Homo sapiens: one gene and its partners. The protein of the gene in region 5 interacts with the protein of the main gene of each other region in a biochemical or structural test. Each region holds a gene or a part of one and is shown on either strand. Other genes may lie near its edges.

Region 1 (3,500 bases), on a different chromosome or scaffold from region 5:
CATGTTCAGATATAGGTAATGAGAGTAGTCAATGCAACACCATTTGCAGCAGCAACGCCACTAGCACTGATGCAGACAATCATCAATAGTGGAATAAGGCTGGGCGAGGTGGCTCATGTCTGTAATCCCAGCACTTTGGAAGGCCAAGGTGGGCACACTGCTTGAGCCCAGGAGTTTGAGACCAGCCTGGGCAACATGGCAAAACCCTATCTCTACAAAAAATACAAAAATTAGCTGTGCATGGTGGCAAGTGCCTGTAGTCTCAGCTACCCGGGAGGCTGAAGTGGAAGGATCACCTGAGCCCAGGAGGCTGAGGCTGCAGTGAACCATTACGTTATCACACCATTGCACCCCAGCCTGGGCAACAGAGCAAGACCATCTCTCAAAAAAAAATAATAATAAATAAATAAAAAATTAAGGCAAACAGCAAAGCAAGAAAATTTAAAAAATTGCATTATCTTTTTACAGGTTAGTGTCCTAAAAGATTATGTACCAAATTTCAGGTAACTTTTGGTAATAACAAATAAGAAACATAACCTTAACCTTAAACCTATACCACCTACATTCACCACTCTGCTCCCCTCCTCGCCAGAGAACAGTCTTGAGGAGGAAGGCACAAGAAAGGCCTTAGCACCACCTGTGAATCCCTCCTTCGTGTCCAGGCTCAATAGACATATGGGGGTTCCTTGCAACTCAATTGATATTGAAGGATATTTGTGAACATTATTTCAAGAAATTCACAGGGAGGATGACAGAGTGCACATGCAACAAGAGTATCCATTTTCTTTGGTGCCCATAGTTAGACAAACAGACCTTTAAAGACAGACTCAGTTAAAAGACAAATACTGTGCTTTAACCCAGAGTGATTCTGCATTATCATCATAGTTTTTTCACTAACTCTTTTCCCTTGAGCTGTTTTTATGGAATGGACTGAAAAAGGTGGGGAACAGCGCATAGCGTATGATCACATTTTACATAAAAACAACAACAAAAAAAAAGCAGCTACCCATAGACTATTTGTATAACATCCAGAAAAGTATGGAAGGCTATCTACTCAACACAACATAGTGGGTGCCTCTGGAAGAAGGACTATGGGAAAGGGAAGAGTTCCACTCTTCATTCACTGATGGATTTGTTACAATGAGTATAAATTACTTTTTAATAGGAAAAACAAGAAAGATACTCCCAAACCACCCCCAAAAAAGTGGGCAACTTAAGAAAAATTCTGAAGTTCAAGATAAGAACTTACAGGAAGATACTGGACCACAGTTCCATTCTGTTTTCCCACTGCCAGCTGCTTTCCTTTGGGGCTCCAGCACACTGAGCAAAGACAGTATTACCAAATGAAAACAAGAAAATGGAGCAAACCAATAAGATCTATCACACACAGCTAATTATCAATTCTCATTCCTCTGTCAGTCCATGGAAGATTGTAGGATCATCTCTATCAGGCAAAGTGGAAAAAAGTAAAATCATTTTAACGATATAAGCCAATTGATTTATCACTGGGCTATTGAATTGAAAGCTAAAAATGCTTTTTCAATAGATTACTGCCCAGAAAGCTGCAAAATACAGAAAACTCTGTAGTCTTTACATAAGACAAGGAGAACAGAGAAGGTTTCCAAATACCAAGAAATCACTGGCCGGGCACAGTGGCTCATGCCTGTAATCCCAGCACTTTGGGAGGATGAGACGGACGGATCACTTGAGGTCAGAAGTTCAAGACCAGCCTGGCCAACATGGTGAAACCCCGTCTCTACTAAAATATACAAAAATTAGCTGGGCATGGTGGCAGGCACCTGTAATCCCAACTACTCTGGAGTCTGAGGCAAGAGAATTGCTTGAACCCAGCAGGTGGAGGTTGCAGTGAGCTGAGATCGCGCCACTGCACTCCAGCCTGGGCGACAGAGCAAGACTCTGTCTCAAAAAAAAAACAAAAAAAAAAAAACAAAACCAGAAATCATTCTCCTGCTCCCATTTAATATTTAAAATGCTTTTCCGCCCAAAGGTACAAATGACTTTCAGAGTACCACCGTTACAGATCCAGAAACAATTATTCCCAAAAAACACTTCTAAACCAGCTGTACCAAAATATTTCTCCAGAAATCCCAAGTACATTCAGGTTAAATTATGTATGCTGTTTGGCTTCAAGGACATTAACTATGGGTATAAAGAATACTCTCAGCCGGGCACAGTGCCTCACACCTGTAATCCTAGCATATGCGGGGTGGAGGAGGGCAGATCACTTGAGGTCAGGAGTTCAAGACCAGCCTGGCCAACATGGTGAAACCTTGTCTCTACAAAAAATACAAAAATTAGCTGGGCATGGTGGCGCATGTCTATAATCCCAGCTATTTGGGTGGCCGAGGCACGAGAATTGCTTGAACCCAGGAGGTGGAGGTTGCAGTGGCTGAGATGATGCCACTGTACTCCAGCCTGGGCGACACAGTGAGACTGTCTCAAAAAAGAATACCTTCCATCCTTAACCTCCCTCGTCATGAAAAAAAAAACCAAAACACAAAAAGCTATCCACTTTCACTTCTAGAAATCAATTCTTAAGTAGATGACCATGATTGTATGCTACAGTGTGAAAGCCTTTATTACTCACCAGAGGTTACTGCTACCGTGGAAGGAAGAGTTGCACATACTTTCACTGTTTCCGTGACTTGCAGGACAGCAATACTACCATCAGCCAGACAAACTGCCACCATGGAGGGGACAGTGGGGTTCCACTTCATATCAATCACCATGCCTCCTGCATCTTTCAAAAGCTTATGATAGGCAAATGGGCGTTTTTGCTGTTTAGCCTTTTAAAACAAATATGCAAAAGTGAAATAAGTTAACAAATAGTAAATGCAGAAACATTTAATATTCAATGGAAATTACTGAATACACAAGGTATCTCAAATCAGTTTATTTTTCTCCATAACCATAAAAAAAGATTGTTTTATGCATCAATCTATTTGCTATAGACAATTTCAACACAACTTTGAAAATGGCAATCAATTATTCTAACATGCTTAGGGGGACTCTCAGAAGGGGAATGCACAATTGCAAAATAACCAATAAATAGCAGACAATAGATTAAAATCTTGGCTCTGCTTCTTAATAATGTTGGGACCTTGGACAGTTACTTAAACTCTGAGCCTGTTTCTCTACCTATAAAATGAAGATAATAGTACCTACTACATAAGGCTGTGGTAGGCATGAACGAGGGACAAGGCATATAAAGCACTTAGTACAGAGTCTAACACACACAGTCAGTATAAACACTCACTATTATTATCATTCTTAAACTGCTTGGAATGGAAGAACATCCAAAATGTAGGAACTTTTGACATTATGTATTCATCTATGACTTTGGGCAAGTCACCTAAGCCTCCTGATAACAACTTAGGGCAGATGGCGTTATGAAAGAATTTCTTGAAGTCCCTTCTGTCTCAAAGATCTATGATTCTATAATTAAGGATTTTTTTTTAACCCATATTTTAATCTAGAGA
Region 2 (3,500 bases), on a different chromosome or scaffold from region 5:
CCAAGCGGAGGTGGGTGGAGGCACGGGGAGGGGGCAGATTGGACCGGTGGAGGTGGGTAGAGGCAAGGGGAGGGGGCAGATCGGACTGGCTCCAGAAGCACAGGCTGCGAGCGAGACCTCTGACCCAGCATTCACCTCTAAGTTGGCCACTGACCTTGGGCAAGACACTTAATTGCCATGGGCCTCAGCTTCCCCTTCCTTAAAATGGAACCACAAGATTTTCTTGGCTTACCGCACAGGGTTTGCACAAGAATTATTCCAGAGGATGTAAGTGCATGCCCTTGACAAGGCATACGGCTTTTTCTTTTTTCTTTTTTTTAATTTATAATAGAAAAAGTGTTTCCTTCCAGGAACTTTTTTTTGGGGGGGGACAGAGTCTCGCTCTGTCGCCCAGGCTGGAATGCAGTGGCGCGATCTGGTCTCACTGCAACCTCCGCCTCCTGGGTTCAAGAGATTCTCCTGCCTCAGCCTCCTGAGTAGCTGGGATTAAAGGCATGCACCACCACGCCTGGCTAATTTTTGTTGTTGTTGTTTTTTGTTTTTTTTTTTAGTAGAGATGGGGTTTCATCATGTTGGTTCGGCTGGTCTCAAACTCCTGACCTCGTGATCTGCCTGCCTCGGCCTCCCAAAGTGCTGGGAATACAGGTGTGAGCCACCGTGCTCAGCTAGCCAGGAACTTTTTTAACTAGTTTTTTTTTTCTTATTTATATTATTATGCTAATATTATATTATGCTATTATACTTGTTGGTAGTGTTTTGGGGGTTTTTGGTTGTTTCGTTTTGTTTTCCAAAGAGGCATAAAGCTTGGGGGATTTTTTTTTTTTTTTTTTTTTGAGACAGTGTCTTGATCTGTTGCTCAGGCTGAATGCAGTGGTGCGATCACAACTCACTGCAGCCTCAAACTCCTGGGCTAAAGCCATCCTCCTGCTTTAGCCTCCCCAGCAGCTGGGACTATAGGCATGTGCAACCACGCCCAGCTAATCTTTAATTTTTTGTAGAGACAGGGTTTCACTGTGTTGCCTAGGCTGGTCTCAAACTCCTGGGCTCAAGCGATCCTCTTGCCTCAGCCTCCCAAAGTGCTAGGATTACAGGTATAAGCTACTGTGCCAGGGTGAGGCATAAAGTTTTTTGTTGTTGTTGTTGTTTTGTTTTTGTTTTTTGAGACCAAGTTTCACTCTTGTTGCCCAGGCTGGAGTGCAATGGTATGATCTTGGCTCACCGCAACCTCTGCGTCCTGGGTTCAAGTGATTCTCCTGCCTCAGCCTCCTGAGTAGCTGGGATTACAGGCATGCGCCACCATGCCCAGCTAATCTTTTTGTATCTTTAGTAGAGATGGGGTTTCTCCATGTTGGTCAGGCTGGCCTCGAACTCCCAACCTCAGGTGATCCGCCCGCCTCGGCCTCCCAAAGTGCTGGGATTACAGGCGTGAGCCACCACACCTGGCCCGGCATAAAGTTTTAATTTAAGCAAAAAGCAAGTAATAAAAGTACTGTCAGCCACGGCCTATTGAGGGACCACATGCTGTGTTCTAAACACTTTCCAGGAATTATCTCATTTAGGTCTCCGGACAATCTTGATGGAAATTCTCCCCACTTTACAGATGAGAAAACTGAGGCTGAGGGAGGGGGTTGCCCAAGGTCACAGAGGTAGCAAGTGTTAGACATGTGGTTTGTATCTAGGTCTATCTGGTTCCAAAGTCCATGCTGCTAACCATTTCACCACATCAGAATGTCAAGGACAGCTCATCTGAAAGGAAAAAGCCTCAACAAGGCAAGAGGTGGGTTGACGCTATGAGAAATGCTGGGTCCACAGAGCCCACTGCCAAGTGCTGACTGTCAGGTCCGGCCACAGTGTCTCAGCATTTTCTGCCCAAGCAGACATGCGCAGAGTGGGAGGCTGCATGCAGTTAGCGAGGAGCGGCCCACACTCAGACCCGCCAATGGCCATGCCCAGCAGCCATGCGAGCTGGTGCCTGCCTGGCCAGAGGTGGAAATCCTCTCCGTGGTGCTGGGTGTGCCCATGGCCATGGCACATGGAAGCTCTGGCTGTTCCTTCCCGTCCTGGGTGGCAGCTTCCGTGGTGCCCTCTGGGCTCCTTGGGGTTTCAGGTCCCTGGGTTGGCCTGGCCACACTTCCCCTCTCGGTCATCTTTGCACCTAGCTGCTCCGTGGTAACTGAGGCAGGGGAGCTGCTTCCCAGCCTCCCTGGCTCTGGCCTTGGCCTCTCCTGCTGTAGGCCATGTTCCTCCGTGAGAGTCCAGGTATCTGGGAAGATGGCCTGCCGGTCCACTGCCACTACAGCTGGCTCTGTTACTTCTTGGAAGCTTCGAGCAGCTCCAGAGGGGGGCATTCTCTCAGGCCCGAATACCTCCGAAGCCCATGGCTGCTCCCATGTGGCAGCCAAGGCCTCCTCTGGGCACGAAGGGCTGGCTGGTGGCCCCTGGGGCTCCCCAGGCTCTTGGAGAGCTGTGCTCCCAGCACAGGGTACAGTGTGGCAGCGGGGAGCCCCAGAGAGCTCACTTGTGATGGTCGGCAGGTGCCTCCAATCTCGACCCTGACTCTCTGTGCCCACTGCCCACAGAGAACCCTCCACAGAGGGAGACCTTGAGTTGAAGGTGTCAGGCATCACCCCAAGACCAGCCAAATCAAGCCAGCTGGGGGCTACAGGAGGTAGAAGGCCTCGTCCACTCTGCTCAGTACAAGGGAACTCCGGAGTGTGGCCCTGGCCTCGAGGGGAGGGTATAGTGGTGGGTGGCAGAAATACAGATGGCATGGGAGGAGGAGAAGGAGGAAGGGAGCAGTATGAGGACGGAGCAGAGCTGGACAGCCCCGGGGCACTCAGAGCCACAGTGGAGGAGCTGGTCTGGAGAAGAGAGAAATGCAGAGGGGAGAGGAGAGAGAGAGATGAGGGGAGTGAGGACGGCTGCACCTTGCAGGCGGTGGGCTCGGCCTTAGGGCTGACCAAGGTGGCTGCAAAGCTGACGCACAGGACTGACCCTTGAAGGAGACCCAGACCCCAAAAAAGCTTCCCTGGGCTTTGCGTGCTTAGCCCTCACCAAACCCAAGCAAGAGAAAGCAGCCACCAAGCCGTGCCTGTGGAGCCACCCAGGGAGGGTATGAGAAAGAAAAGACCACGGTAAGGTGGACAAATGGGGAGCCAGGTGGCTACGGAAGACAGCCCCAGGCACAAATGGAGGGAGAGCCAGCCCCAGGGGCTGCTGAACCCGCCTCGGACACTGGCCCAACTCGGCCATGTCCCTCCGGACAATCCCAGCTTTCCTACACCCCAAGTCCTCTACGTCTTCCACATCCTTGCTCCAGGGATCTGACTAAAACCACTGCTGCTTCTCCTGGCATCAGGACACAGGCTGTCTGAGAAAACGGCAGCCTTAAAAGCACCGGGGCACAGCTCCCTCAGGCCAGGCCCTGAATCCAACTTACTTGCTTCTGACCATGGCTGCTCAGAACCACTGGCCTGGAGCTGGAACTATAGCACGCAAGG
Region 3 (3,500 bases), on a different chromosome or scaffold from region 5:
AATGGTGCCCAGGCTGGAGTGCAGTGGCGTGATCTCGGCTCACTACAACCTACACCTCCCAGCCGCCTGCCTTGGCCTCCCAAAGTGCCGAGATTGCAGCCTCTGCCCGGCCGCCACCCCGTCTGGGAAGTGAGGAGTGTCTCTGCCTGGCCGCCCATCGTCTGGAATGTGAGGAGCCCCTCTGCCTGGCTGCCCAGTCTGGAAAGTGAGGAGCGTCTCCGCCCGGCCGCCATCCCATCTAGGAAGTGAGGAGCGCCTCTTCCCAGCCGCCATCACATCTAGGAAGTGAGGAGCGTCTCTGCCCGGCCGCCCATCGTCTGAGATGTGGGGAGCGCCTCTGCCCCGCCGCCCCATCTGGGATGTGAGGAGCGCCTCTGCCCGGCCGAGACCCCGTCTGGGAGGTGAGGAGCGTCTCTGCCTGGCCGCCCCGTCTGAGAAGTGAGGAGACCCTCTGCCTGGCAACCACCCCGTCTGAGAAGTGAGGAGCCCCTCCGCCCGGCAGCTGCCCCGTCTGAGAAGTGAGGAGCCTCTCCGCCCGGCAGCCACCCCATCTGGGAAGTGAGGAGCATCTCCGCCCAGCAGCCACCCCGTCCGGGAGGGAGGTGGGGGGGGGTCAACCCCCCGCCCGGCCAGCCGCCCTATCTGGGAGGGAGGTGGGGGGTCAGCCCCCCCGACCGGCCAGCCGTGCCATCCGGGAGGGAGGTGGGGGGGTCAGCCCCCCACCTGGCCAGCCGTGCCGTCCGGGAGGGAGGTGGGGGGGTCAGCCCCCCGCCCGGCCAGCCGCCCCGTCCGGGAGGTGAGGGTTGCCTCTGCCCGGCCGCCCCTACTGGGAAGTGAGGAGCCCCTCAGCCCGGCCAGCCACCCCGTCCGGGAGATGGGGGGGTCAGCCCCCCCACCCGGCCAGCCGCCCCGTCCGGGAGGGAGGTGGGGGGGTAAGCCCCCCGCCTGGCCGGCCGCCCCGTCCGGGAGGGAGGTGGGGGGGTCAGCCCTCCGCCCGGCCAGCCGCCCCGTCTGGGAGGTGAGGGGCGCCTCTGCCCGGCCGCCCCTACTGGGAAGTGAGGAGCCCCTCTGCCCGGCCAGCCGCCCCGTCCGGGAGGGAGGTGGGGGGGTCAGCCCCCCGCCCGGCCGGCCGCCCTGTCCGGGAGGGAGGTGGGGGGGTCAGCCCCCCGCCTGGCCAGCCGCCCCGTCCGGGAGGGAGGTGGGGGGGGTCAGCCCCCCTGCCCGGCCAGCCGCCCCGTCCGGGAGGTGAGGGGCGCCTCTGCCCAGCCGCCCCTACTGGGAAGTGAGGAGCCCCTCTGCCCGGCCACCACCCCGTCTGGGAGGTGTGCCCAACAGCTCATTGAGAACGGGCCAGGATGACGATGGCAGCTTTGTGGAATAGAAAGGCAGGAAAGGTGGGGAAAAGATTGAGAAATCGGATGGTTGCCGTGTCTGTGTAGAAAGAAGTAGACATGGGAGACTTTTCATTTTGTTCTGCACTAAGAAAAATTCCTCTGCCTTGGGATCCTGTTGATCTGTGACCTTACCCCCAACCCTGTGCTCTCTGAAACATGTGCTGTGTCCACTCAGGGTTAAATGGATTAAGGGCGGTGCAAGATGTGCTTTGTTAAACAGATGCTTGAAGGCAGCATGCTCGTTAAGAGTCATCACCAATCCCTAATCTCAAGTAATCAGGTACACAAACACTGCGGAAGGCCGCAGGGTCCTCTGCCTAGGAAAACCAGAGACCTTTGTTCACTTGTTTATCTGCTGACCTTCCCTCCACTATTGTCCCATGACCCTGCCAAATCCCCCTCTGTGAGAAACACCCAAGAATTATCAATAAAAAAATAAATTAAAAAAAAAATAAAAATAAAAAATAAATAAATAAATAAATAAAATGAAAAAAAAAAAAAAGAACTACCTGAGATTGGGTAATTTATGAAGAAAAGAGGTTTAATTGACTTACAGTGCTGTAGGCTGTATAGGAAGCATGGCTAGGAGGCCACAGGAAATTTACAATCATGGCAGAAGGCAAAGGGGAAGCAAGGCACATCTTACATGGCAGCAGAAGAGAGAGAGCACAAAGGGGGAGGTGCTACACACTTTCAAACAACCAGATCTCATGAGAATTCACTATCAACAGAACAGCAAGAGGGAAATCTACCCCATGATCCAATTACCTCCCACCAGGCCCCTCTTCCAACACGTGGGGATTACAATTTGAGATGAGATGTGGGTGGGGACACAAAGCCAGACCATATCAGGTATTAGGTTGATTCCATGTCTTTGCTATTGTGAATAGTGCTGCAGTGAATATTTGTGTGCATGTATCTTTATGGTAGAATGATTTATATTCCTTTGGGAATGTAATGGGATTGCTGGGTCAAATGGTAGTTCTGTTTTTAGCTCTTTGAGGAATCGCCACTCTGCTTTCCACAATGGTTGAACTAATTTACACTCCCACCAAGAGTGTGTAAGCATTCCCTTTTTTCTGCAACCTTGCCAGCAGCTGTTGTTTTTTGAGTTTTTAATAATAGCTATTCTGACTGGTGTGAGATGGTATCTCATTGTGGTTTCGATTTGCATTTCTCTAATCAGTGATATTGAGCTGTTTTTCATATGCTTTTTGGCCACTTGTATGTCTTTTGAAAAGTGTCTGTTTATGTCCTTTGCCCACTTTTTAGTGGGGTTGTTTGTATGGAGGTTCATCATTAGTTACATTTAGTCAATAGATTATATGTGTTGTAGAATATGAAATTTATTCGTTTAAATTGTAAATAAACTATTTCATCAGGTTAAAAAAAAAAAAAAAAGGAAATCAGAAAATCCCTAAGAATAAAGCAAGAAAGTCACTGTAGTCTGATGCCTGGCGCCCACCCCAGACCATTTTTATGACAATCTCCATAAGTAGAGCACAAGTACTGGGGTTCCTTTAAACTTTTTTTCCTTTAAATTCCATTTTCTGCAGGGAAGTGGGTAGGGTCAGGAATGAGATCAATACACCCTGTCTAGGCCCAAATGTTCTACTTCAAGCTAACATGCAGCCAAGGTTGAGAACTTCTACTCTATGCAGACATACCTTTCAACAAAGATTCCTTACAGGAAACAACTATTGACTTCACAATCACAAAAAATTCAGGCCAGGCGTGGTGGCTCACACACTTTGAGAGGCCCAGGAGGGCGGATCACCTGCAGTCAGGGGTTTGAGACCAGCCTGGCCAACATATAGAGTGAAACCCCATCTCTACTCAAAAATACAAAAATACGCTGGGCCTGGTGGCACGCGCATGTAGTCCCAGCTACTTGGGAAGCTGAGGCAGGAGAATCGCTTGAACCCGGGAAGTGAAGGTTGCAGTAAGCCGAGATCACGCAACTCTAACCCAGACTGAGTGACAAAGTGAGGGTCCATCTCTTTCAAAAAAGTCTATTGGCTCCCCCCGCCCCACCACCTTACATTTAGTATGTTTGTGTGTGTGTGTGTACCTACAACACACAACAAGCTGATTTTTTTTTTTGGA
Region 4 (3,500 bases), on a different chromosome or scaffold from region 5:
TTGCTAAAATGATTAGTTAATGACATATCTTAATAAAAATGTATACATTAACAAAAAAATTCCTTGGTCATATCTTGTTTTCTAGGGAATGGTTGTATCTCTTGTCACATGAAATGTTGAATCCATACTATGGCCTCTTCCAGTATTCAAGAGATGATATTTATACATTGCAGATCAATCCTGATTCTGCAGTTAATCCGGTATGATTTGAAGTTATGATGTGAATTGTGACCAATAATGCTTTTCATGTTTACATGTTAATGTAGTTTATTATATAGAAATTATTTGTCCTTGTCTTAGTTGTGCCCTTTGACTCAGCAATTCCCCTTCTATAAAATTTTCCCAAGCAGATGATTATGGATATATGCACCAATTTGGAAACAGGGATGTTTATTGTTTATAGTAGCACTCAACTGAAAACAACATAGTTGTCTTCAGGAGCGGGGACTGATTAAATTATGACATGAAGCAGAATAATGCAAATGATTAAAGGCATAGGTTCTGGAATTAGAAAGACGTGTCGTGGTCTCATCACTTACTAGCTTTGTGACCTTTCAGGGCAAGTTCATGGACTTAAGCTTCAGTTTTGTCATTGCTAATAAATACATTTGTACCTCAAAGAGGGGTTATGAGAATGAAATGGGACCCTGCACATTAAGCACTTAGCACAGTGCTGTATGTTATTCACTCTACAACTCTATCAACTACATTACTAAGCACTCAACAGAAGTTAGCAGTTATTACTAATGTATTGTTTTTATATTGTCTTTCCATATAAGGGCATACTATACAGCCACTAAAATGATAATGTGGGATAATAGTTAATGATATGGAAAGATGGTGTTTATGATGTGTTAAGTGAAACGAAGGTTATCAAATAGTATAATGCAACTTTGGTAAATATATATGTTTGTGTGCGTGCGCGTGTGTTACTTTTAAAAAAGAAACAAAAACAAGATAAAAGGTTTAAAGACGAGCTTAAAAGATTACTTAGTAAATAGAGAGGTAAAAGAATTTAAAAATACAAACATCTAACAAAACAATCTGTGACGAAAGACCAAATATATATAAAAGGGTAGAAATGTTAGATTTGTTTCAAGAAGTTATTTAGGGAGGATTTTGAGGTGAAGGTTCTTTTTGGAGGGCCCACTACTGCCCCTGTAGTAACAATAGCCCAGACTCATTGACTGCTTATAACATGCCAGGTCCAGTTCCATGGGTTTCAAACATCACCTCATTTTACTCCTCATAGAGATGCTTTTTAGATACTGTTATTATCCTCATATTTCCAGATGTGGACAGTTAGTCTTACGGGGGTTAATTTGTCCATATGCCATTGACTGGCAGAATCGTGATTCTAATTCAAGTCTGACACCAAGTCTGTGCTCTTAAATCTATGGTGTTTTGATGTTTAATTTCTGGTTAGGTCAAGGAAGTAGGGAGGTTTAGGATTGAAAGATTTTTTTTCATGACAAAGGGCTCAGCAGGAGGTGAGAGAAGGAAGAGAAAAGGATCTGCAAGTAGTTGAATGAAGCTCCGGGACCATAGTTTGGACTTAATTTCTAAAAGATAAAATTTACAAAATGACTGGCCCCTGCGAGAAGGGCATATTACCCTGTGTAATATGCTGTTCTCTGGTGATCTAGAGACTCTGGAGCATGCCCTAGAGAAATACTCCCTCCTGACTCTATTGAAGAGTAAAAATTTTATGCTTATTCTCAAAAAGATTAATGTTGCTGAAATATTTCATTTTTATTAAAATTTTCCTGGGTAGTGCCTAACGAGTATATATACTGTTTTCAATTTCAGGAACATTTATCCTATTTCCACTTTGTTGGACGAATAATGGGAATGGCTGTGTTTCATGGACATTATATTGATGGTGGTTTCACATTGCCTTTTTATAAGCAATTGCTTGGGAAGTCAATTACCTTGGATGACATGGAGTTAGTAGATCCGGATCTTCACAACAGTTTAGTGTGGATACTGTATGTATTGAGTCTTCTATCTCTTCATTATAAACTCTGAGCTTTAAAAAAAAATATGTTTCAAAACTGATGTACTTAAAAAAATTACACAGAAAATATTGAGTGGTTATTTGAGTGATAGGATCGCATATGATTTCCCCCTTTCCTGTAGCTTCTTTATACATTTCAAATTCCTTAAACTTAGCAAGTGTTACTACTTTAAAAAGGAAAAAACAACTAGTATATTTCTATTTTTAAAAGTACTTTATATAATTGTTTCCTCAATGTGATACAAATTCTGTTCCAAACCTGCGTGTGTTAGAATAGCAAATTCTTGGCTGCTGTTGCTTTTAATGAAGTGGCGATTGTTGGAACCGTACTTTTAGAATAAGAACTAATTGTTGAATTTAAGCTAAGAACTGATTCTGTTTTGCAAGAGGTCATTATTTTGTGAAGATACACTGGCAATGTTTATTTTTTATAAAGTATACAGTAGCTTTCTCACTAGGGATACACAGGCACTTGGCCCCTTGGAGTACAGTACCGAGTAGGGCTCTTCAGAATGCCAAATGTAACTGAAATTGTCCTATATTGGTGGTTCTAGCAAGGCCCAGCTTTGACCAAGGCTCTTTCTCATTACTCAGGAAGTTAAATGTTTTCTGTGTTTATGAAGGTTAAAGCTCTTTGACTTTTCTGTCCAGAAAGAACTAGGTGGTATGGAAGCAGAATCTGACCTCACATTTGTTATATTATAAAATGATCTTAGTTTTATCTCACCAATTAATACATCTATAGGGTCTGTATTTTAGGTTTCCCAGTTACATATCTTTTCCTCTTTCCTATCCAGTGAGAATGATATTACAGGTGTTTTGGACCATACCTTCTGTGTTGAACATAATGCATATGGTGAAATTATTCAGCATGAACTTAAACCAAATGGCAAAAGTATCCCTGTTAATGAAGAAAATAAAAAAGAATATGTCAGGTAAACACTCCTGTGTTCTCAAGGCTGAATTTTTTAAAATGTTCTAGAATGTTAGTATGAACAAACTTAAATATTTAGATAGTACTACTTAGTGTTACAAAATCCGCTTCAGGAGAATTTAGTGGCTTATTTAGAACAGACATTTTATTATTTCTCACAATTCCATGGGTCAGGAAATTGGGCAAAAGAACAACATGGATGACAACACTGGTGTTCCACAAGATGTCAGCTAGGCCTGCAACACCAAGATGGCCTCTTCACTCATAACTAGGATAACTCAAATGGCTGAGGGCTAGCTGGCATGGCTGTTGACTGGGGTCACTGTCTGGGGCCTTGTTCTCATTGTTGGCTGAGTTCCTTGGTTCTCCCTATGTGATATCAAAGGCCATTCCCTCTCTCCATGACCACTCCCTCTCCCCATAGCCACTCCCTCCCCCCATAGCCACTCTCTCTCCCAACAAGATAGCCAGACTTCTTATGGGGTGGCCAGCTTTCTAAAGCTCAAAAGCAGAAGCTGCTAGATCTTTTTAAGGCCTAAGCCTGGTCCT
Region 5 (3,500 bases):
ATATACTGATCAAAACGCCCTAAAAGTATAAACCTGGGCTAACAAGCTTACAGAATCACTGCAAGAGTAATTTTTTCTACTTTTAGCGTTTCCATGGACCTTTTTCAAGTTTCTACTATAGTAAAAGCAGTACTGTTGCATTTCATAAGGGAATGGAAACATTTATACATGATGCTTTTTGGACTACTATAAAAGATAGTACTGTATCCACCTTATATATTTTCAGAAAGTGTAATGGCACTCAGGTTTAGGTTTTTTTATTTTATTTTATTTATTTATTTTTATTTTTGAGACGAAGTCTCATGCCGTTGCCCAGGCTGGAGTGCAGTGGCGCAACCTCGGCTCACTGCAAGCTCCGCCTCCCGGGTTCACGCCATTCTCCTGCCTCAGCCTCCCGAGTAGCTGGGACTACAGGCGCCCGCCACCACGCCTGGCTAATTTTTTGTGTTTTTAGTAGAGACGGGGTTTCACCGTGTTAGCCAGGATGGTCTCGATCTCCTGACCTCGTCATCCGCCGGCGTCGGCCTCTCAAAGTGCTGGGATTACAGGCGTGAGCCACCGCGCCCGGCCGGCACTCAGTTTCTTAATTATGCAAATATAAATATCTTGACAATATAAGTAACCTCCCATCTACTAGCTGAACATTTATCTAACCAGAAATCTACTGTTCTGGCAACAAAACTACCATAAAAGATTTCTGGCCAGGCGCGGTGGCTCATGCCTGTCATCTCCACACTTTGGGAGGCCAAGGCAGGCGGATCACGAGGTCAGGAGATGGAGACCATCCTGGCCAATATGATGAAACCCATCTCTACTAAAATACAAAAAATTAGCTGGGCATGGTGGCGCGTCTGTAGTCCCAGCTACTCGGGAGGCTAAGGCAGGTGAATTGCTTGAAAACCTGGGAGGCAGAGGTTGCAGTGAGCCGAGACTGTGCCACTGCACTCAGGCCTGGTGACAGAGCAAGACTCCATCTGAAAAAAAAAAAAGATTTCTGACCCAACTGCAAAACTTTTTACTCATTCAAAAACATGTTTGGGCCAGCACGCGGTGGCTCATGCCTGTAATCCCAGCACTTTGGGAGGCCGAGTCAGGTGGATCACCTGAGGTCAGGAGTTCCAAGACCAGCCTGGCCAACACGGTGAAACCCCATCTCTACTAAAAATACAAAAATTAGCCAGGCATGGTGGCGTGTGCCTGTAATCCCAGCTACCAGGGAGGCTGAGGCAAGACAATCGCTTGAACCCAGGAGGCAGGGGTTGCAGTGAGCTGAGATAGCGCCACTGCACTCCTGCCTGGACCACAGAGCGAGACTGTCTCAAAAAAAAGTTTGGCCCCACAGGTAAAAAATCAAGTTTTTTTTCTTGTGACATATACAATTTAAAATTGTACACACATTTCTGTTTCACCTTTTAGTTGGGTTCAAAAAAACCAAAAATCTTAAACTGATCAAAATTTGGTTTATGTTTAAGATAATTCCCTACATTAACAGTACCACTTTGAAAAGTGCACAAAATTCAACTAACATAAAAATACTTGGTATTCCTGTTTTTATTTAAACAAACATATCTGTGAAGTACTTCTGTAAATGTTTTAAAAGTAGAAGAATCGTATTAGTGCCAAACATATTAAGTATATATAAAAGTACAGAGAACCTTTAATACCTACAAAGTATTTAATAACATTTGGCTCTTAAGGACAAAACAAGTATAATATTCCAAAACAACCCACTCTAACCATGTCAAACATGCAATTTCTTTCTCCAAACCAATTTTCATTATGGTTAATACAGAATTCCAAATTAATGCAAACTATGGAATATCTTTTTTAAAGGTGATAATTTAAAATTTTATTCTAAACCCAACAACTCTGTTACACTGTCATAATGTTATAAAGTTTTGGTTGGCTACTTTACCTGGGCTCCTTCTCCATGGTATAAGCAATTCACCACATTATCTAATAAGTTGATATCCAGTTTTTGGCTGAAATCAAGCAGCTGACGAGCTGCATGGTCTGCTAACATTGTCATAATTGCTGGCATAGATTACTGAAAATAAAGAAAAAAAATTGAAGCTGCCTATCAAGTTTTGGTATTATCAAAAACTTCCTACAAGTTATTTTACTTCAACCATGTTATTACAAATATTTTAATGAATACTTTAGAGACTTTAATTACAGAAAACTGAGATAGTAAAAGCAAGTAACAAAAGCTGAAATTACTTAGCTATTTGATAATTACATAAATTATTATGGTCCATTCAACTTTTCTAGTGTTTAGTTTATACACCAGGAAGACTTTCCTATTCTACTAACATTTATAAAGTATGCTAACCTATTATTTAAACGCATCCACTATTAGGATTTTATGGTCCTAAAACGTGATACAGTTCAGTATCTTGATGTCAAAACTTTTTAAGCAAGTAGGATTAAGTTCAAGTGAATGTGATTTTCTTTTCTTCCCAAGTAGGGTCTTCTGAATAACTCAGTAAAAGCTCACTTCACATTATCTTAACTTTATAAAAATAATGCTATAAAGACAGAATGGGCCGAGCGTGGTGGCTCACACCTGTAATCCCAGCACTTTGGGAGGCCGAGGTGGGCGAATCACTTGAGGTCAGGAGTTCCAGACCAGCCTGGCCAACATGGCAAAACCCCGTCTCTACTAAAAATACAAAAATCAGCCAGGCATGGAGGCGGGCACCTGTAATCCCAGCTACTTGGGAAGCTGAGGCAGGAGAACTGCTTGAACCCAGGAGACGGAGTTTGCAGTAAGCCGAGATGCACCACCACACTCTAGCCTGGGCAAGAGAATGAGACTCCATCTCAAAAACAAACAAACAAAGACAGAATGATGTTAAAAATTAAAATGTGGATATACAGTAATTCCTATTGTCTACAGCAATGGTTAGCAGGAACCACAAGTCTAACATATCTTGGTATAAATGCCCTTAGCCTCTACAGAAATAACTTAGCTTCTACACTCAAACCATTCAAATTGTTTCAACCCTCAATGAATTGGGGGATTGAAATAAAGCTACAAACATATTTACTGAATATATGATCTAGGAAAAAAAACTTTATGGGCAATATGCCTAACAAGATTTTTTAAATTCCAGGTATTCATTGGCAAGGTAAAAGCTGTAAAAGCTTGCCCATTCCCAAATAAAAAAGAATTCTAACAGAAAAATGAGCTACTTCGCCTAAATATGCACTGGTTAAAACCTACTAGTTCATATGCAGTGCTATCCTTTTAAGAGGATTCTACTCTAAGATGCTGGCACACATCCACTTTTTTGTTGCCCAGAATTATAAAATATATCTTTCCTCTGCTTTTCTTCAAAGCCAATGCCACTCAAACCTAATTGGTTAAGTCAGTAGTCCTTAACCTTTTTGGGGGTCTAAGATGCCTGAGACTCTGAGGAACCAATAGCTCTAACCCAGTTTTTAAAAACTCACGATTTTGTATACAATTATAGAGGATTCAGGACATCCTGAAAGCC
Region 6 (3,500 bases), on a different chromosome or scaffold from region 5:
ATCCCAACAATGGCTTCATTCAGTAAAGGCTGTCAGTCACCTTACTGAATAAACAGCCTCAACAAATGGACAATCTTGCCCTTTATTCCCTACCCTGGAACCCAGAAAACTGTTGCATCCTGGTTCTACCTTCTAGACTCCACTTTCTCCTGCCTCCTGTCTTAAGCCCCATCCTCACCCTTTGCAAGGTAAAATCCCAGAGTTTGCCCACCTGCCTGTCCCCTGGGTCGGGGCCACTCACACATCTGTCCGTTGCTGAGGTGAGTGGGCATTGTGTTGGCAACGATGACGTTGGTTCCCATATGTTCCTGCATCAGGTGAGGGTGCAGGGGGTGGTGGGCATGGGGTGCATCGCTGGGGGACCCTGCAGGTAGAGAAGGTCGATCAGGATGGAGAGTCTGGGATGCAGACCTCAGGCCTTGGGACGCCATCTTCCTCAGGCGTGGCCAATCAACCAGCCCATCCAATATTGGCAGTGCCTGTTGGGTACCTATTCCTGGGTTAGTAAACTAGGGTGTACCATTCCCATCTATAGACTTCATGAGGGTGTTAAGAGGACCCCAAAAAACCAAGAGAACAAAAGTGAGTTGAAAGGAACAAGGTGCATATAAGGAAGCTCTGAGATCACGTAAATGTTCTAATGAGTAGTGTATTGGTCACATAGTAACATAATGGATGTAATCAATGGCTCTCAAAGCTCCTTGGAGTGCAAGTCCTTCAACCATTTGGTCCCGCCTCACCTTTCAGCCTCATCCCCCACATCTCTGCTGCAGCCAACTGACCTACTTATAGCATCTATGTGTCCCCTGTGTTTTTCTATCTCTATGCTTCTGCTCACGTTGTTGCTTCTGTCAGAGATGTTTTTCCACCCCAAACCTGTTCCATGTCCATAAGCCCAAATCCCAGCTCATATATTTCCTCTCTTTAGAAGCCTCTCCTGATTCTCCTTCCTTGGATTTCTCATAGTAATTTGTCTGTAACACAACTTTTAGGAACAACCACTTCTTCTGTCTATGAGCATTACAATTTCAGAGGTATTTTTCTTCTTTCTTTGAGGGCCTAGCAGATTGTCTGGAACACAGTAACCGCTTCAAACATATGTCAGGGAGTAAAAATACCACATGGGATATGGTTTAATAATAGCCTATGGTGAGTAATATGACGATGATGGAATTTCAACGCTTGCAAGCGATCTCTACAGTACATCTATTTCAGTGATAAATAACAATTGTTGATAATTAACAATTATCACGTGCCAGGTACTGTTGTATAGCACTTCCCATGTTTCACATAATTTAATCCTCACAGCAATCCTATAGGATGGATACTATTATTAGCCCATTCTACAGATGAGACAACTGAGCCCAGAGAGCTCTTAATTATTTGGCAACAGACCACAGGCTCCTGATCCTGATCTCAATGACACCTGATTCATAATAACCCCATGTTCACAGGGTCAAAGTGAGAATGAAATGAGCTATCACATAACAGCGATTCCCAACTGGGGATGATTTTGGCCCATCAGGAGACATTTGACAATATCCAAAGACATTTTTGGTTGTCACCACTGGAGAAGTGCTACTGGCACCTTATGGGTACAGGACAGAGATGCAGCTGAACAATGTACAGGACAGCCCCACACAACAAAGAATTGTCCAGTTCCAAGTATCAATAGTACCAATGTTGAGAAACCTCACCCTCGCCTTGTCATCTTCAGTCACTGAAACACCTCCAAAATCTCGAATTCAACATCCCCACTTTGACTTCACCTCATGTCCTTCCAGCTCCCGTAATCTAATACCATCGCTGCAAAAATTCTTCAGCCCTACTGAGACTGTCAATTCACTGACACTCTCTTTTCACTATCACCCCATCCTTTTGTTGTTGTTGTTGAGACAGAGCCTTGTTCTGTCGCCCACGCTGGAGTGCAATGTCATGATCTCAGCTCACTTCAACCTCCATCTCCCGGGTTCAAGTGATTGTCCTGCCTCAGCCTCCCGAGTAGCTGGGATTACAGGTGCATGCCACCATGTCTGGCTAATTTTTTTTTGTATTTTTAGTAGAGATGGTGTTTTGCTGTGTTGCCAGGTTGGTCTTGAACTCCTAGCCTCAAGTGATCCACCCGCCTCGGCCTCCCAAAGTGCTAGGATTACAGGTGTGAGCCACCGTGCCCGGCCTCTATCTTTATTTCTTTTTGAGTGCAGCCCAGACTCCATGACCTATCATTCTAATCACTCCCTTGCAGTCATCCTAACTCCTTCATACTCCCCTTCATAGTCAAACCATTTCAAAGGGTTATCTACTCTATCTCCACCTTCCCACTCACTCTCTTTGGAGCACTCTCCAATCTGGTTTCCACTCTCCCAGCTCTCTGATGCTGCTTTCAACACAATTGCCAAGAGCCTCCAGCTGTCAATCCAATGGACCCTTTCCTCTCTCTTCCCCTCCTCTCTTCACCTCTCCTTTCTTCCCCGCTTCTTTCTGTTTCTCTGTAGAGTTTAACACCATTAAACACTCTGTCCTTCAAACACGCTCTTCTCTTGGATTCTGGAATTGCCCTGGTTTTCTCCTACCCCTCTGGCCAGTCTTCTTCCCTTCCCTCCATGGCTCCATCTTCCCCCTGATTCCACAGAGCTGCCTTTAATCTTGTGCTTGAGCAACAGACTCATACATTCAACAGCCTCCTTGATAACTTGGATTTGTAATAGTCATCTCATGCTTAATGAAAGTCCACAATGAGGCTGGGCATGGTGGCTCACACCTGTAATCCCAGCACTTTGAGAGGCCAAGTCGGAAGGATTGCTTAAGGCTAGGAGTTCAAGACCAGCCTGGGCAACATAGTGAGACCTTGTCTCTATAAAAAATAAGAATGAAGAATTAGCTGGGTGTGGTGGCACGCACCTGTAGTCCCAGCTACTTGAAAGGCTGGGGTAGGAGGATCTCTTGAGCCTGGAAGGTTGAGGCTACAGTGAACTATGATTGCGCCACTGCACTCCAGCCTGGGTGGCAGAGAGAGATCTCGTCTCAAAAAAAAAAAAAAAAGGAAAAAAGAAAAGAGGGTCCACAATGGATCTCTGAGGTCACCCCTCACTACCACCCCCAGACCCAGTGTCTTGTTGTTTATTCTGTCCTCCTCATTTCAGTAAATTACTCCATCGTCATTTCTGCTACTCAAAGCAAAAATGTAGACTTTGTCCTTGACTCTTCCTCTTTCTCTCACTCCCTATGTCTGATCAATCAGCAAATCCTGTGGGTGTGGGCTCTTCCTCCAAATAGATGATCAGGTTTATCTTCACTGCTCCATTGCCAGGGTCCAAGCCTCCATCATCCATCACATGATTGGAGACAGTGACATTCTCAGGAATCTGCAATTCACTCTCTACCCAACAGAGTGGTTTGTTTGAAGCATTAGTCTGGGATGGGTGTGGCGGCTCACACCTGTCATTCCAGCACTTTGGGAGACTGAGGTGGGTGATCACTTGAGGTCAGGAGTTTGAGAC
Region 7 (3,500 bases), about 18 Mb from region 5:
TTCTAGTGTATAATGCCGATTTCAAGTTAATTACTACTTGCATTTCTAAACGAGACTACAATTATAAATCCACAATAGCATGGTTTTATCATTTCCCTGCAACTTTGACTACAAATTATAGATAGGGACTATGTGCCCACTCTGTACCACATAACCCTGTATGGTCTGCCCTATAGCTGTAAGATCCTCCTAAATGGATGCTTTTATCGTTCAGAGCTAACATCTGCTAAATCACACCATTGTTTCTTCAGCAGATGGCTTGTCAGGAGGCCAGATAATAAAGATGTGTTTACACTGTATATACAGCCAGACTAATGGTCTGATACCGATAGGGCCTGTTTGCTATGTCGATACTAATTAGCCAAGCAGAGCCAATGAAAGCTTTCCAAAAGACTGCATGTTAATACATTAGATTCATTAAGCTTCATTAGGAAGGCAGAAACAAACATTTTAGGATATGGAATAAGTGCATTTTTATAATGTTGTTCTTAATTATTACACAGACAAAATGTTTTGACCACTTTACAAAAAGTGATTTTAAAAAAATAGGCTAATCCTTAGAAAGAGTTAGAAAGGCGTCCTAGGAAAACATTCAATGTTCTAATAAATGATTTTCTCCATACATTTTTCCCTATAATAAAATTAAAACAATCTTTTCTGAAAATCAAAGGAAAAGAGGAAGGCTAAAAAGGAAATTTCAAAATAAAGCCAAATCAGAAAGTTAAGAAACAAGAAAATAGTATGAATGTATTATCAAGTGTAATTAATTTTATTAGGCTTAGCATTATCTCAACGAGAAAATTTGAGTATGCAAATCAGCTGTGTAATCAGCTATGCTTTTTCCATGAACCATTAAATAAAAACCTTAATTAAAATAAAAACTTTAAAGTATATATTTTGTTAATGTTATTAAAAAGTAAGGCAAAGACTACTGCAAAATTCAGGCGCATATATTAGGTTATGTTTATAGGTTTTACGTTTATAGGTTTTACGTTCAGCCTTCAGACCTTCTTAAGCAAAAACAAAGCCATTAGTGCAGGCACATAAGCAAATTGTGCCATAAGTCATGATCTTCAAACTCAATCCAAACAGCAATGCTAATAAAAACTAGCTGCAGAAATGCAAAAAGCACTGAGCTGTGCAAATGTAAATGACAAGCTTGCCAATCCATTAAAACTAATGGCCTACACTGTCCATGTAGCTCTGGTTGGATTCACATGCAAATTTCTATGCAAAGTGTTCAAGCACTTTGCAGGACATGATATCCATTAATATCAATTCACATGTTATTCCAGTGGCAAGATACTTGCATCACATATTTCCTTTATGTGCTGAGGCTTACCTTGGAGCTTGCCATGCTTTGCCAATACTCTTACAAGGCCTACATACTTGCCGGTGTCAAGGACAGCAGATGAATCTAAGCGGTCACTAAAAATTAAAGCCACATTTATATTGTTTTAAAAGTCAATTAACTGCTAAAAGAACAGCAACATCCATTTAATCACTTTTCAAAAGCTCATCAGAAGACCTGAACTAATGTTGGCCTCTACGCTTCAGTTAGGATTTCTTTTTGAAGCCATATACAAGTTCACACGAAATTATATTCAAAGTGACTAGTGAAGTAAAAGCCCAACACTACATATATATTGCATCACTCCATCTGCAAAGGATACTTATGAAGAAACTCTTTGGCTTTAAGTGATTCTAACCTTCATCACGAATACTTGACATTTTTACTTGAAAAATCTAACAGGATAGGAAGCCAAAGGTACCTGAGAAATGGATAGAATTTTATTTACACTACAATATTGAAAGGGAAATGTTATCAAGCCTCTTAAAACAGTTACCACCATCACCACTGTTGTGATGATATATAATCAATGGAAAAAAACCTTTGGTTCTAAGGACTAGAATGTCTTATCATACTTAAACAAAGACACCTTGCTGAACATAAGCCACAATTAATTAAAGAGCCGTATAATACGAAATTTCAAAAACACTGACAACAAAAGAATTTTTAAAAATGACATTATATAAGAGAGTAATATTCCATCTAGATAATCTATCAAGGTCTGTAGAGCAGAATAAATGTTGACAACTTGTTTCAGTGCCAGGGTACTCACAATTCTTCTTTCAAGTTCAAGGCATCTTCTACTTTATCATGTCGACAGCATAAATTTATTAAAGCTGCATAGCCACCAGTAACCATGTCGGATTCATATTTTGCTTTCAATTCAAGGGCTTTTTGCATATTCTAAAATACAGCATAGATGTGAAAAAGAAGAAATCAGTGTGAAGGTAAAAATGTCACATTTTTAGCTTTACTGTTCAGAGTTTAGAAAAAGTTAATAGTACTTTAAAAATAAATGGTTTCATGTTAACAACCTGACTCTGCCCCTTGATATTTTTATTCACCTCTAAGAAGTGGGCAAGTCTTACACGTGTAGGGGTTAAAAGATGTGTTATCTGTAATATAAAATAGGCCATTATTTATGCCAAATTTGATGTTTTAGGCTTTGTGTATGGTATTATTTAAAAAAGACTTCCAGATTAAGTAATTCCCAAATCAAATCCTAATCACAGTCTAATTTCAGGATGCAGAAATATGTATCATTGAAAAGTTTCTCAGTCTAGTTTAGTATCCAAGTAATATGAAGAAATATTTTAGAATTTAACAGTAGCAGATTATAATCATAAAGTTAGTCATGATATTTTTTCCCTAAAACTACAAGTTTATGGCTCAATTATATTGAACTAGAAAGTGAAAAATAGTCTAGTGATATCCCACAAATTGCAGACATACACTAAAATGAACACAAAGTACAGCTGGATGCCCGCTGAAAAAAGGCAAGGGACCCTTTATCTCAGAAAGAGCTTTTTTCCAGCAGGAAAATGGAATTTCAATCCCTGCATTAACAACCTAGTAATATTTGACTTGCAAATGACTACTGCGTGTATCAGTTGCTTGACAATCTAGATATAAGAGACCGGAGCCATGGCTTGAAAGGACATTTGGCATGTATGATAAACCTATCACAGCTGTTACTATCATTCACTTTGCAGATTATCGTAAACAAACTACAGCAACCAGAAAACATGCCATTCAAGGTGTAGCTGAAATTAGTTAACCTTTCATTTAATTGCATTCTTTACAAGCCTGACATATAACGATCAATTGTAAAAATCATAAATATTATATTTGGTTTTTCTTATTGTTACCAAGAATTTTTTGCCTTAATAATATTTAAATATTAAAACAAATGTTACCTCTTCTGAACAAAGCACTAATATGAGTTGCTTTAGGACATCTCTTATAGGTTGATTTTCAGCTTTTAGTGTTTCAAGTGTGGACTCCAATTCAGATGATGTAAGTTGCACAGTCTACAGAAAAGAAAAAAGAAAAGAAAAATTTCCTGAAAAAGGAAATATAGTATGCCTTTTGTCACTCTTCCCTTTAAACTGACTTTCCTTTCTACCTTCCTAAATGTCATAAATGCTAT

What was found.
Region 1: the proteins of XPO1 (region 5) and NUP214 form a complex in vitro, tested with the Homo sapiens proteins (one study listed by BioGRID).
Region 2: the proteins of XPO1 (region 5) and PXN interact in a test that uses a peptide from one of them, tested with the Homo sapiens proteins (one study listed by BioGRID).
Region 3: the proteins of XPO1 (region 5) and NPM1 interact in a test that uses a peptide from one of them, tested with the Homo sapiens proteins (one study listed by BioGRID).
Region 4: the proteins of XPO1 (region 5) and SMURF2 form a complex in vitro, tested with the Homo sapiens proteins (one study listed by BioGRID).
Region 6: the proteins of XPO1 (region 5) and HNF4A form a complex in vitro, tested with the Homo sapiens proteins (one study listed by BioGRID).
Region 7: the proteins of XPO1 (region 5) and LRPPRC form a complex in vitro, tested with the Homo sapiens proteins (one study listed by BioGRID and IntAct).

Annotation. Positions count from the first base shown.
Region 1 is NC_000009.12:131,128,586-131,132,085, reverse strand, and holds part of NUP214 (nuclear pore complex protein Nup214), read right to left. Parts: intron 2,808-3,500; coding exon 2,609-2,807; intron 1,321-2,608; coding exon 1,250-1,320; intron 1-1,249. UniProt on the Homo sapiens protein: Part of the nuclear pore complex. Has a critical role in nucleocytoplasmic transport.
Region 2 is NC_000012.12:120,217,231-120,220,730, forward strand, and holds part of PXN (paxillin), read right to left. Parts: exon of another isoform or gene 2,862-3,500; coding exon 1,977-2,861; intron 1-1,976. UniProt on the Homo sapiens protein: Cytoskeletal protein involved in actin-membrane attachment at sites of cell adhesion to the extracellular matrix (focal adhesion). Recruits other proteins such as TRIM15 to focal adhesion.
Region 3 is NC_000005.10:171,401,349-171,404,848, reverse strand, and holds part of NPM1 (nucleophosmin), read right to left. Parts: intron 1-3,500. UniProt on the Homo sapiens protein: Involved in diverse cellular processes such as ribosome biogenesis, centrosome duplication, protein chaperoning, histone assembly, cell proliferation, and regulation of tumor suppressors p53/TP53 and ARF.
Region 4 is NC_000017.11:64,554,308-64,557,807, reverse strand, and holds part of SMURF2 (E3 ubiquitin-protein ligase SMURF2), read left to right. Parts: intron 1-85; coding exon 86-200; intron 201-1,809; coding exon 1,810-1,988; intron 1,989-2,814; coding exon 2,815-2,952; intron 2,953-3,500. UniProt on the Homo sapiens protein: E3 ubiquitin-protein ligase which accepts ubiquitin from an E2 ubiquitin-conjugating enzyme in the form of a thioester and then directly transfers the ubiquitin to targeted substrates.
Region 5 is NC_000002.12:61,531,857-61,535,356, forward strand, and holds part of XPO1 (exportin-1), read right to left. Parts: intron 2,823-3,500; exon of another isoform or gene 2,567-2,822; intron 2,048-2,566; 5' UTR 2,042-2,047; coding exon 1,916-2,041; intron 1-1,915. UniProt on the Homo sapiens protein: Mediates the nuclear export of cellular proteins (cargos) bearing a leucine-rich nuclear export signal (NES) and of RNAs.
Region 6 is NC_000020.11:44,425,199-44,428,698, reverse strand, and holds part of HNF4A (hepatocyte nuclear factor 4-alpha), read right to left. Parts: intron 365-3,500; coding exon 212-364; intron 1-211. UniProt on the Homo sapiens protein: Transcriptional regulator which controls the expression of hepatic genes during the transition of endodermal cells to hepatic progenitor cells, facilitating the recruitment of RNA pol II to the promoters of target genes. Activates the transcription of CYP2C38.
Region 7 is NC_000002.12:43,943,990-43,947,489, forward strand, and holds part of LRPPRC (leucine-rich PPR motif-containing protein, mitochondrial precursor), read right to left. Parts: intron 3,382-3,500; coding exon 3,268-3,381; intron 2,255-3,267; coding exon 2,124-2,254; intron 1,429-2,123; coding exon 1,343-1,428; intron 1-1,342. UniProt on the Homo sapiens protein: May play a role in RNA metabolism in both nuclei and mitochondria. In the nucleus binds to HNRPA1-associated poly(A) mRNAs and is part of nmRNP complexes at late stages of mRNA maturation which are possibly associated with nuclear mRNA export.